2 separate regions of the Homo sapiens genome follow, and region 2 is linked to region 1. The links come from fine-mapping of genetic effects on gene expression. A gene starts in region 1. The other region holds a variant in brackets. All regions are shown on one strand. Distances are from middle to middle. Region 1 holds the start of ROR1 (receptor tyrosine kinase like orphan receptor 1). Region 2 overlaps ROR1 (receptor tyrosine kinase like orphan receptor 1).

Evidence for each region. PIP is the estimated chance that this variant, and not a neighbour inherited with it, causes the effect. A credible set is the group of variants that fine-mapping cannot tell apart.
Region 2: its variant is the best candidate, but not a certain one, in a credible set for the expression of ROR1 in cerebellar hemisphere (GTEx, PIP 0.81).

Annotation. Positions count from the first base shown.
Region 1 is chr1:63,771,177-63,776,549 of GRCh38, reverse strand. ROR1 (receptor tyrosine kinase like orphan receptor 1) reads right to left here and starts at 2,533. Exons shown (of 9, transcript NM_005012.4): 1 at 2,042-2,533. The coding sequence starts at 2,132. RefSeq lists an enhancer at 909-1,472 and silencers at 1,338-1,632, 2,417-2,466.
Region 2 is chr1:63,794,144-63,799,516 of GRCh38, reverse strand. The region is part of intron 1 of ROR1 (receptor tyrosine kinase like orphan receptor 1); the gene reads right to left. Among named protein-coding and RNA genes, the nearest start is that of ROR1, 23 kb to the right of the region's middle. RefSeq lists an enhancer at 4,074-4,733. The variant G/A (reference allele first, on the strand shown) is at 2,629.

The DNA.
Region 1 (5,373 bases):
AAGACAGTGTAAAAATCCCTATCCTGTTCTGTTTCGTTCTGATTACCAGTGCATGCAGCCCCCAGTCATGTACCCATCATGACCCTCTCACGTGGACCCCCTTAGAGTTGTGAGCCCTTAAAAGGGACAGGAATTGCTCACTGGGTGTCTGAGGAGTTTTGTCTGTGGCTCCTCCTGCTACAATGGAATAGGCAATACCTTTTTTAAACAACTCTAAAAGGCTGTAAACAGTTAAAGGAGACAGAATTGGGGTGGCTGCTGATAAGAAGGGTGTTTACAGTGAGCAAAATCAATGCAGGGACATGTATTTAAAGGTAAGTGACCCCCACCCCCACAAGGGGCTATGATCTAAAAGCAACTATTGTTGAAAGGTGAAGTACAAAGTAAAGGAGTCCACAGGGGAAATAACTGAATTAACCAAAGCCCCAAGCCAGGAGTCCCACCTTAGTTAAAATCACCCTGCTTATCTCCACCTCAATTTGCTGGGCAACCCAACTTGAGAAGGATGTTTACATTACTTAGGCAGCATGGCCCATTTTTACTTTTCACCCAGGTGTTGTGGCGCAAGGCCAGATGTTTGGCATCACCAAGCAAAACATCTATGTGACCAAGCTGTTTACATTTCATTAGGATTTTTCATCAGGAAGGTGCACTCCCTGCTGATGCACATCTTAATTACAATTAGGAGCTCTATTTACCCCCAGGAGCTTTCAGATTAGCACGACCACATTATAGGATCCGTTTCAGAAATCATCCTCAGAAAATGCTACTCTAGCTTCCAAAAACCATCTCTAAGAAATCAAAATTTCACACAACTTCCTTCCAGAGTGTGTTTTCTACCAAGAAAGTCAGCTAACTTTTAGTAAAAACTAATTCTGCATTCGTAGTCTATGTAGTGAATACATCTTTTTCCTCTCAACTGCTAAGTAGCGCAGAACTTTTTCTTTTCCTAAACACAGTGCTAACTTAAAAATGAAAGATGCATGATAAAAGAGCAGAGATCTATTTATCCGCTCAGGTTTAGGGCTGGGAGTGGGGGAGGGCAGAATCCAAAGGCTCCTCACCCCCTCAAGGGATGCATGTTAAAAGTGAGGCCCGAGACCCCGGAGACTTTAATCAACTTTCCCCCTCCAACCTCCAAAGAATGAATCGGTTGTCTCCACAGGCTCAGCCGGGCTCTTCCCTCTCATTGTGTACCGGCTCAGACGCAGCAAGGACCCCAGCTTCCCGCAGCGAACTAAGACGCTCCGGCTTGCGGTGAAGTCTTTCTCTAACTGTTGCGATTGTCTTTAGAGATTACCAAAATCAAATATGCATTAGATGGCTTTTCCCCCTCTTGTTTGTAACACGCACACACACACGCGCGCGCGCGCGCGTGCACACCCAAAGCACTTTGGAGCCGCAGGCCGCCTCTGACAGCACATTTTGCACAAAGTGGCAGCGGCTGCAGCGGCGCACAAGTTTTGGCCTCTATGATGACTCTCGGGAGGGCCGGAGGGCCGGGGGCGGTGGCGATGCGAGGCCGCCGGAGCCCCAGGAGGACAGGGCTTTTGTTTGCGTCGATCCGCGAGCCGCCTGGGCTCTGGCGAGCACCACTGAAAATCCAAACTCCCTCCTGGACCGCGCCTTCCGGGCCGGCTCGCAACTTGGGGGCAGGATAGACTTGCCTGAACACCGGCTGGGGCGCGCTAGAGGTCCAGGGAGACAAGGGGGGACGCCCTGCACAGAAGTGCCCCGATCACCCCCAGGACCCTCAAACCCCTCCACGCTTCCTGTCAGCGCTGACAATCGCTGCTGCGCACCGAGGAACGAGTCCCTGGGCGCGCCCCGGCCCGCCGCGGGGCTCCGGGGCAAACCCTGGCCTGGCGGGGCTCCGGGGCAAACCCTGGCCTGGCGGCGCCGGCGAGCCCCGTGGCGGGTGGCCGGACGCGCCCCGGAGCCAGCGCGGCGCTTCCTGCGTGTCCCGCGCCCGGCTGGACGGCGGAAGGGTGGCCACGGGTCAGGGGGTCTGGGCGGGCGGGGGCCGGCGGGCGCCTCTTACCTTGGGCAGCAGCCCCGCGTGCGGCCAGCAGCAGCGCGGCCAGCAGCGCCAGGAGCGGCGGGCGCGTCCCGCGGCGGCGCGGCCGGTGCATTCCTCCTCTCGCTGAGGCGGCGGCGGCGGCGGCTCCCAGGCCGCGCGCAGAACATCCACGGGCTCTTCCCGGGCTCCCGGCCGCCTCGTCCCGGCCGCTGGCGCTCGCAGGACGCCGGGGACGTCTGCAAAGCTCTTTGTCCCTCTAACCTGCTCCCTCGCCTCCGCCTGGCCGCCTCTGGATGCCGCGAGCGCGATCCCTTCCCAGCCCTCTGGCTGCAGCCTCGCCTGGGCCGGCGGGTCAGTCCCAGGCTGTCCGGGTCGCACCAGTGGGCGTGAGTCGCCCTGGGTCGGACTCCGAGAACAGCGCACCCTGCGCCCAGGGGCTGCCGTCCCGGGGCTCCCTCGGCGGCGGCGGTGGCGGCTGCTCCAGCTCTCCACGCTCCCTCTCTCGCTCAACTTGTCACTTTCCACCAACTCTCCAGCCCAGCGCCCCAGCCCCGACCAATGGGAGACGCGGCCCAGGCTGGCGACCCAGCGCCCTCTGCTGCAGCCTCTCAACGCCCGCACCCTCCCCGACTTCGCAGAAAGCGGTCGCGGCTCCCGCGTCTCGGGCACGCTCCCTCCCCTCCCCTCCCCCACACTCCTCAAACTCGCCACCGAACCGAGCGCCGGGGACCTTCGAGGCTACTTGACAGAAGGGGAAACCGAGGCTCAGAGAGACTTATCCGGGATCTCAAGCCAGTTCGTGGCTGGACGACAGTAGACCCAGGTTCTAGCAGCCTCAGCTGTGTCACTGTTAGCTGTGTGACTCTGGGTAATGGCACATTTATTGCTATCATACAATTTCCCTTTTGCTTTCTTCTTGGACCCAAGAGTTGAGAGAGTTCTTACACAAGTAATTTATACTTCGCCTTTTTGTCTTTAATTTGTAGTCTCACTGAATTCAATGTCATCTGTACTGCCTCCTGGCAAGATTTATTGAGGATTATCTGTGGTTATTTTTGCCAATGTCCCATGGTTTTTTGAAAGGTGTTTTTGTCTTCCGAATGTGAAGATAGAATACTGTATCGATTTATCTTCTTTGTATTCATTATTTTTTCAGGCCTTCTGAATCTTTGCATGTTTGTTTGTTTGTTTGTTTTTTGTCTAGCTGCTCTGCCATGAGCCAAGGGATCATTAAAGACCTCTACAATGAGTGTGTTTTTGTCCATTTCTCCTGGTTTAACTTTATGGATTTTGTAATTCATAAATACCCATAATGATTTGACTTTCCCTGTAGAGACTGCCTTTGATCATAAAAAGTGGTGAGCGCCTGCTGTTTTCAGGGCTGTGCTCTAGGCTCTGAAGATGCAAGGGTAATAGGACACCTGTCAGTCTTGCTCTGGAGGAACAGGAAGAAGCCCATAGTCTCTCAATAATCACGTGGCCACTTACTAAATACCTCCTGTTTGCCTTGTGTTTTATATGCATTTGCTCACAAATCCTCCATTGACACTAAAAAGAGTCATTAAAAGTATATACTTCTTAGCTGTTTTACATATATTATCCCCATATTACAGTTTTAGAAATTGAAACTCAAAGGGAAAGTAAATGACTTGCCCACAGTCTCACAGACATGGGGTAGCCAAGCCAGCACTCAGGCTGTTTCCACTGAGAGAGTTAAAGCCTGTAACCAGAGCCTGGCACATGATAAGCACTCACTCGGGAGTTGTTGCTGTTGCAGTAGCCTCTAAGAACCCAGCTTTAGGGTTTTAAAATGAACAGTCACTTCATGGAGGGCGAGGACTCTGTCTCAATCATCTAGGTATCTTGCTGGCCTCTAACAGTACCTGGAATGCAATAGGAGCTCAATTAATGAACAAAGGTTAGGTCACCATTTGGAAAATATTAATTTCTCATCATATTTGTTTTATAGGGGTGCATGGAGGAGGGACAAAATTTCATCCATACTCCTTGGCACCAGGAAAAGCAGATCCCTGAGAGCTGAGACATTAGAAGGGGGAAAAAATGCAGCCCAAAGTATGTCCCAGCAGGTCATGGACTCCAGACTCCCAGCCCTTTGCCTTCAGGCAGGTGAATGACTAACCCATGCGGGACAAACAGTCACTTATTCTTCTCCAGGACTTCATGGCAGGAGCTGTGTCGGTAGTTTTCCCCCTTTCTATCGCTCTGACCTGAGGTCAAAAAATGATAGACAGAGAGGCCTTGGGTCAACCAGTTCATTACCTACATTGATCTGTCCCCCAAGTTTCTCTGCCTGAGATCTATTCAATCCTGTCCCAATTATCTCGCTTCTTGCCTGAGGAACTTACTGCACAAGGTTCTCTTGTTGGGAAACAGTCTTTGATGGTCAGTCTTAGTATATCACAGCCCAGAAATCAGAGGATACTCAGTTACACTGCACAGTGCTGGGCAGTCCTCTGTTGTCTACAGTCAATACACACAGTTGTCAGACAAGGAGCCTTTCTCATCCACCCACCCTGCCCCCAGCCCCCACCCTATAACTCCTAGGCCCAGGTATCTTAGGTAACAGACAGCTGCTAGTGCTGAGTATACAGAACTTAATGGCACTTTTATCAGTACTTAAACTTCCAGGAACTTAATCACAGAATCATAGACATAAGGAATGTGAGACCTGGAAAGGGCTTTGGAAATTAACTAGTACACCCCCCTCAACATTTTATACAGGAGACATGTGGGACTTAGGAGAGTGAAACCGCCTTGCCCAAAGCTGGCCAGAGCCAAAACTAGGACCTAGACCTACCAGTCCAGACCTGGGTAAGGACCATCATCAAATCATCCCAGATTCCTTCAGTTTAGCTATAGCACACAAGTTTCCAAAGAAAAGGTTAGCAATGGCCTGGCACGGTTGCTCATGCCTGTAATCCCAACACTTTGGGAGGCCAAGGTGGGTGAATTGCTTGAGATCAGGAGTTCGAGACCGTCCTGGCCAACATGGTGAAACTCCATCTCTACAAAAAAATACAAAATATTAGCCAGACGTGGTGACACACCTGTAATCCCTGCTACTCGGGAGGCTGAGGCATGAGAATTACTTGAGCCTGAGAGGCAGAGGTTGCAGTGAGTGGATATAGCGTCACTGCACTCTAGCCTGGGCAACAGAGCAAGACTCCATCTCAAAAAAAAAAAAAAAATGCTGGGGTGGGGGGGTGTTAGAAAAGGCTTTTCCTGTTTAAAAAAGTAAAAGAGGTAAAATATATATAATATGCAAAATATATATATGTGTATATGTATATTTATTTATTTATGCAAGTTCAGTAAATGCCAATGTTTAAGAG
Region 2 (5,373 bases), 23 kb before region 1:
TGAAATACACTGTGATTAGCAACCAGCCATACAGACACTATGACAGGCATGCTCCTAGGCACTCAAGTGATAACATGGAATTCTGTCGCCAAGGAGGTTCCAGTGGCCTGGGGAACAAGACACAGCTAGCATTGGAGAAGTTTTTAAACACTGGTGAGAGAAGTCAGACAATGTAGGCTATGGCTAGATCATGATGAGCTTTGATCCACCATGGCCATGGCAATGGGGAGCCATTGAAGATATTTTTGAGGAAGGGAAATGACACAATGAAAGCTGTTTGTATGTCAACTTTATAATAAGAAAAGTGACTTGAACACCTACTACGTGCCAGTCACTATTATTCCAGGGGCTTTACATGTATTATCTCTAGTTTTCCTAGCAGCCTTTTAAGGTAGACATGATCATCTCTTCTTTACAGATGAGGCAAATGAGACTCAGAAACATTAAGCAAAAGTATTTAAGATTACGTGGCTAATAAATGATGATGCTGGGGAAGTTAATCCAGCTGTTGAATCAATAAAAGAAAGAGGTTACTAGCAGGGAAATTGACGTTAAGCCCCTGAATAGCCAAGATATAAAGTATGGTGCTGACACCAAAAATAGGAAAGTTTATAATGCATCTCACACAACACTTCATCTATTTTTTCAAAGTAGTCCAGAGATGAACCAGAGATACTTTTGCTTAACGTTTCTGAGTCTCAGTTGCCTCATCTGTAAAGAAGGGACGATCATGTCTACCTTGAAAGGCTGTCAGAAAAACTAGAGATAATACATGTAAAGCCCCTGGAATAATGGTTCATCTCTGGACTACTTTAGAGCAGCAATAAAGTAAATAGCCACAATGTGTTAAGTGATTACTATGTGCTGGGTACTATGTGTGATCAGGGCTGGGGATACAAAGGAGACATGCAGAGCAGTTAGTGTCTTGTCTATACTTACAAGGCAAAGTGATGGGTGGACAAGACAACAAACCACCCTGCTTACCTCCTCTCTATGGCAGCGGACTGCATGCTGCCTGGCTCAAGCCCATGTATAATACTAGGACCCATCACAAGGAGTCAGGTCTGTGGCCTCCTCCTCCTCCCCCAAAAACTGCAACCCCCACTGACTTGTTCCTCACAGGCTCTTGGTCCTGTTCTAGATTATTCTAACCAAGAGTACCTACTTAAGTTGATGGGCCCAGTGCAAAATAAAAAAGTGGGGCGTCTTATTGAAAATAATATCAAGAATTCCAATTTCCCTGCAGAGCGTCAAATCAACCAGGGGGCTCCAATGTGGATGGTCTGCGCAGTTGCACAGGTTGCATACCTATGAAGCTGGCTCTGATTCTAAACCAGTTCCTACTTCTCTAGATTGGTAACAATTGTATGCAGAGTGGAAAAATGCCTGACTGAGTCTCAGAAAATGTCTGTTCCATTCAAATCTTCATGATCAGGAGACCTACTGCCAAAAAGATAGCTTCTCAGCTCAATGAGAGCTGGCTGGCATGGCATGGGCTCATAAGATGAAGAATGCAGCCTCTCAAAAGGGCAACTTTCTCCCTTGCCAGTATATGGCTTCCAATGATTATGTGGTGCAGTATTTAGTGAAAAGGAATTTGGTCGTCTGTCCTCTCAAAGGTTATCCTGAAGATAGAGAACATGGAAAAAAAAAAAAAAAGACAAGACTACAATCAGTCCTGCTTTAAAACAACAACAACAAAGGTGTCCCTAAATTTAATATGTGAAGCTTAGTAAAAATGATAACCATAACAAACATCATTTGAGTGTTTATCAACTACCAGTGGCTATGCTGAATCCTTTTTAAAGATATATATAGCCCTCACAGCAACCTGAGATACAATATTCAAAACCGTGTTCATTTGCTTTCATAGAAGGGCTTGTTTCACTTGTTCAAATAGAGCTGAATTTCAGGTAGAGGAAGACCAGAACAAATAAACCCTACTAATTGTTTGACCTTGAGCAAGTTCCCTTCCCTTGCTGGGCTGGATGTGTTCACCTGTAAATGGAGTTTGTGGCCTGCATGCTTTTGAAAGTCCTCCGGACTCTGATAGTCTGTGATTCCCAGAGGAGGAACTCGGGAAAATTCATGACTCTCCGTTCAGCCTTCCCACACATGCTACTCCAGAGCACCAGAGAGACAAACCACAAAATCGGGCACAGCAGAAAAAAAGCTGGCCCCACAGCCAGGACACTGGGTTTCTAGCCTGGATCCACCAATTACTCATAGGATGACTGGGAGCAAGTCACTTCACCACTCTGAGCCTTGGTTTCCTTATCCATAAATTAATTAACAGATGCCCAAAGTCCTTTTTTGCAAGGCACAGTGCCTGGCACCTAGAAAGTTCTCGGCATGTGTTAGTTATTGTCATCATTATTAATTATTACGCCCTCTTCCAATAGTTCCCACCAGCTTCAAGTAAGAAAGAACCCTTTTAATGCAAAAATGAACTAGAGTCCTCTTCCCATCTAATAGGTTTAACATCTAGAATCAATTAATTAGAAAAAATATAGAACATCAAAAAATCACTATGAATTGTTATTCAATTCATCAAAGCACTTTCATATATGCTTGAAAAATGTGAAACATTTTTCTCATCACCGATGATGTTGGATTCTCAAAACCCTT[G/A]CAATGATACTGAGGAGCTGGGCTGGGGCCCGCTGCTCTCTGGACCACCTGCCAGCTCAGGGCTCGGTGCATTGCCATTTCCACCTTCAGTCACCTCGACTCTGCAACTCCTCCTCTCCTCTCTCCACCGCTGCCCTTACCACACTGTCAAGGCCCAAAACACAAAGGAGGCAAAAGGAAGAAATATGTATATCTAGCACTGGAACTGAATGTACGACTGCTTGTGCCTGTTTCTGCCTTTAAACCTTTTTTCTCACAAAGTACAAACTTTTAAAGGGTAAGAGATGATACACCCATTTTATGTAGAATGTTTGATGCAGTCTTGGATAAATTCTTCGTAACTATATTTTAATATGCATTTGGAAAAAAACACAAAATAATACATTACTAGAGCAGGAATGGTTCTTTAAAGCCATGGTTCTTTAATTTGCATATAAATCACCTGGGATCATGTTAAAATGCAGCTTCTGATCCAGTAGTTCTGGAGAGGAGCCTGAGACTCTGCATTTCTAACAAGCTCCCAGGTGATGTTGACACTGCCACTACACAGGGCTTGGTCCAACCTTATTGCTTTGCAGATGAGAACCTGAGGATCAGAGAAGGCAAGTGTTTTGTGTGGGGCCACACAGCTAGTTAGAGGTAGGGCTAGGAGATAAACTCAAGTTTATTGACTTTCAGTCCAGAGCTCTTTCTGCTATGCCCTGATGTCATCCTTTGTAGAAGGGAAAAATGTTTCTGAAAAAAAAAAATCCCATCGTCCTTTCCCATATAAGACAATACTACACACATATAAATATGCACATACATACAGGACAAGAGCTAAACTCTCTCTCTCCCAGTTTCCAGCACAGAATGTTGCCAACAAAAGATACTCAAAATACTATGTGTCGACAGATTAGTCTGATGGGGGTTTTAATGAAATGTTCTGATTAGAGTAATGCTTTTACCTTTGTCATCTCTAAAGACTCCCTTCTGAGCAGCCACCCCCATCTCCAAAACCTTCTGTACTTACATACTAAGTTTCCCCTAATGGCATTTTCTAAATTAAAATTTAATTTATGGGGAGAAAGTTCAAAACAAGCTATTGTTCTAAATCAATATTGAGGCAGAAGATAAGGCTATTCCAGTAGCGGCAAGATATTTTATGTTCCTGCATATCCTTTGCACTAGACCATCTAAGGCACGTGAAGTGTTTGAAGAGTAGTACTTAGCAGTCTAAGTGTTCAAACAGCATTCAAAGCCTCTCTGCCCTCCCACCATTCAGAATCACTCCAAAGGGCTTCTGTGGCTTGGAACTGTATTTTCACGATCTTAAGAGTTCAAGAGAGCTTACTCCATGAGCTTGCTCAGCTCAGGCCCAAGCACACGGCAGGTCCACAATATGTCCCTGACCCAGTGTCAGATCCAGCACCTAGAGTCACAAGTTTTCAAGGTTTCGACAGGATTTTCCTTAAAAGGTCAGAAAACATACCCTCCAAGGGAAGAAAAAATGGCTGTTTAGACTTCTTATTCTATTCTACCACTGGTTGAAATTAACAAATTCAATGCAAATACTTTGGATTTGAATCTTGCCACACTAGGAAACCAAGAGGACAGGAGGATAACACTTAAAGGCACAGCCAATTTTTCCCCTTGCAAGAGGGAACCTCCGGCATAGCTCCAAAGCCACAAGAGCCCTCTCAGCGGGGCTTCTGATGATTTCTAACTCGAAGAATGTAATCCATCAGCCCTCTGGAGCACCAGCCTGGCTGCCAACCCTCCCACCAGAACCTTCCTGAACCTGCCCTCCCAACCACAAAGTCCGCTTCCCTGGATGCAGGGTTCCAACCTCCCTTCACTGCATGGCATTCGAGGCTCTGCACACACAGGCAGCCTCGTCTGGGGTCCACAAGTCACTGTGCAGATCTCTCTTAAGGCATGTACCAAAACAAATTCTAATTCCTCCGGTTATTATGTCTCTCCACCCACCCCAAACGACTGCACCCCACCACTATCACCAGTTTCATGAGTGCGTGAGCCCCTAGAAAATGGATAATGTTCTGGACCCTGTGTATCCCAGCACAGTCCCGGGCATACAGTCAGGACTTACAAAATGGGAGCTATTATTCTTACATCATATTGATATGTTCCCTCCGCTGCTCCCTTCTTGCTCGCTGCTTCCTCCAGTGGGCTTCCTAAAACAAATTTAGGGCTGGAAGGGGCAGTCAAGCCACTGCATTTTACAGATGAGGAAATTGAAGAAGACCTTCAGGTGATTCCATCACTGCGGTCCTGCTAGCAGTCTAGCTGGAGAGCCGCCCTCTGGCCTCTGATAACAGGTCCTGAGCTCCTCCTCATTCTGTCTCTCTGGACCCAGCCAGCAGGGCACAGCAGGCCACCACCAGTGAGAGAAAGAAGCTGGTTCCTTCGTGGCCTAGTGCTGGAGGCCGGGGAAGCCAGTTTCGATGCCAGACTCAGGCACTGAGGAATTCAGGGTGGTTATTTCTGATCAAGGCCAGGGTGGGCCTCGGGTTCCTCACCTGGAACATGGTCATCTGAGCTCTTGTTGATGGACGACTCACCATGCACACTCAGGACATGCCAGTGACCGTCAGCATTGTCTGATTTTTGCCCTCACCAAAAGGTAATGAGGTAGATATGATTAGTACCCCAATTTTTACAGATGGGGAAACCGAAGCTTTGAGGTTTGCCTAAGATCACAGTTAGTTGAATGGGTTTGGCTGACTCTCGGAGCCCATATTTTGA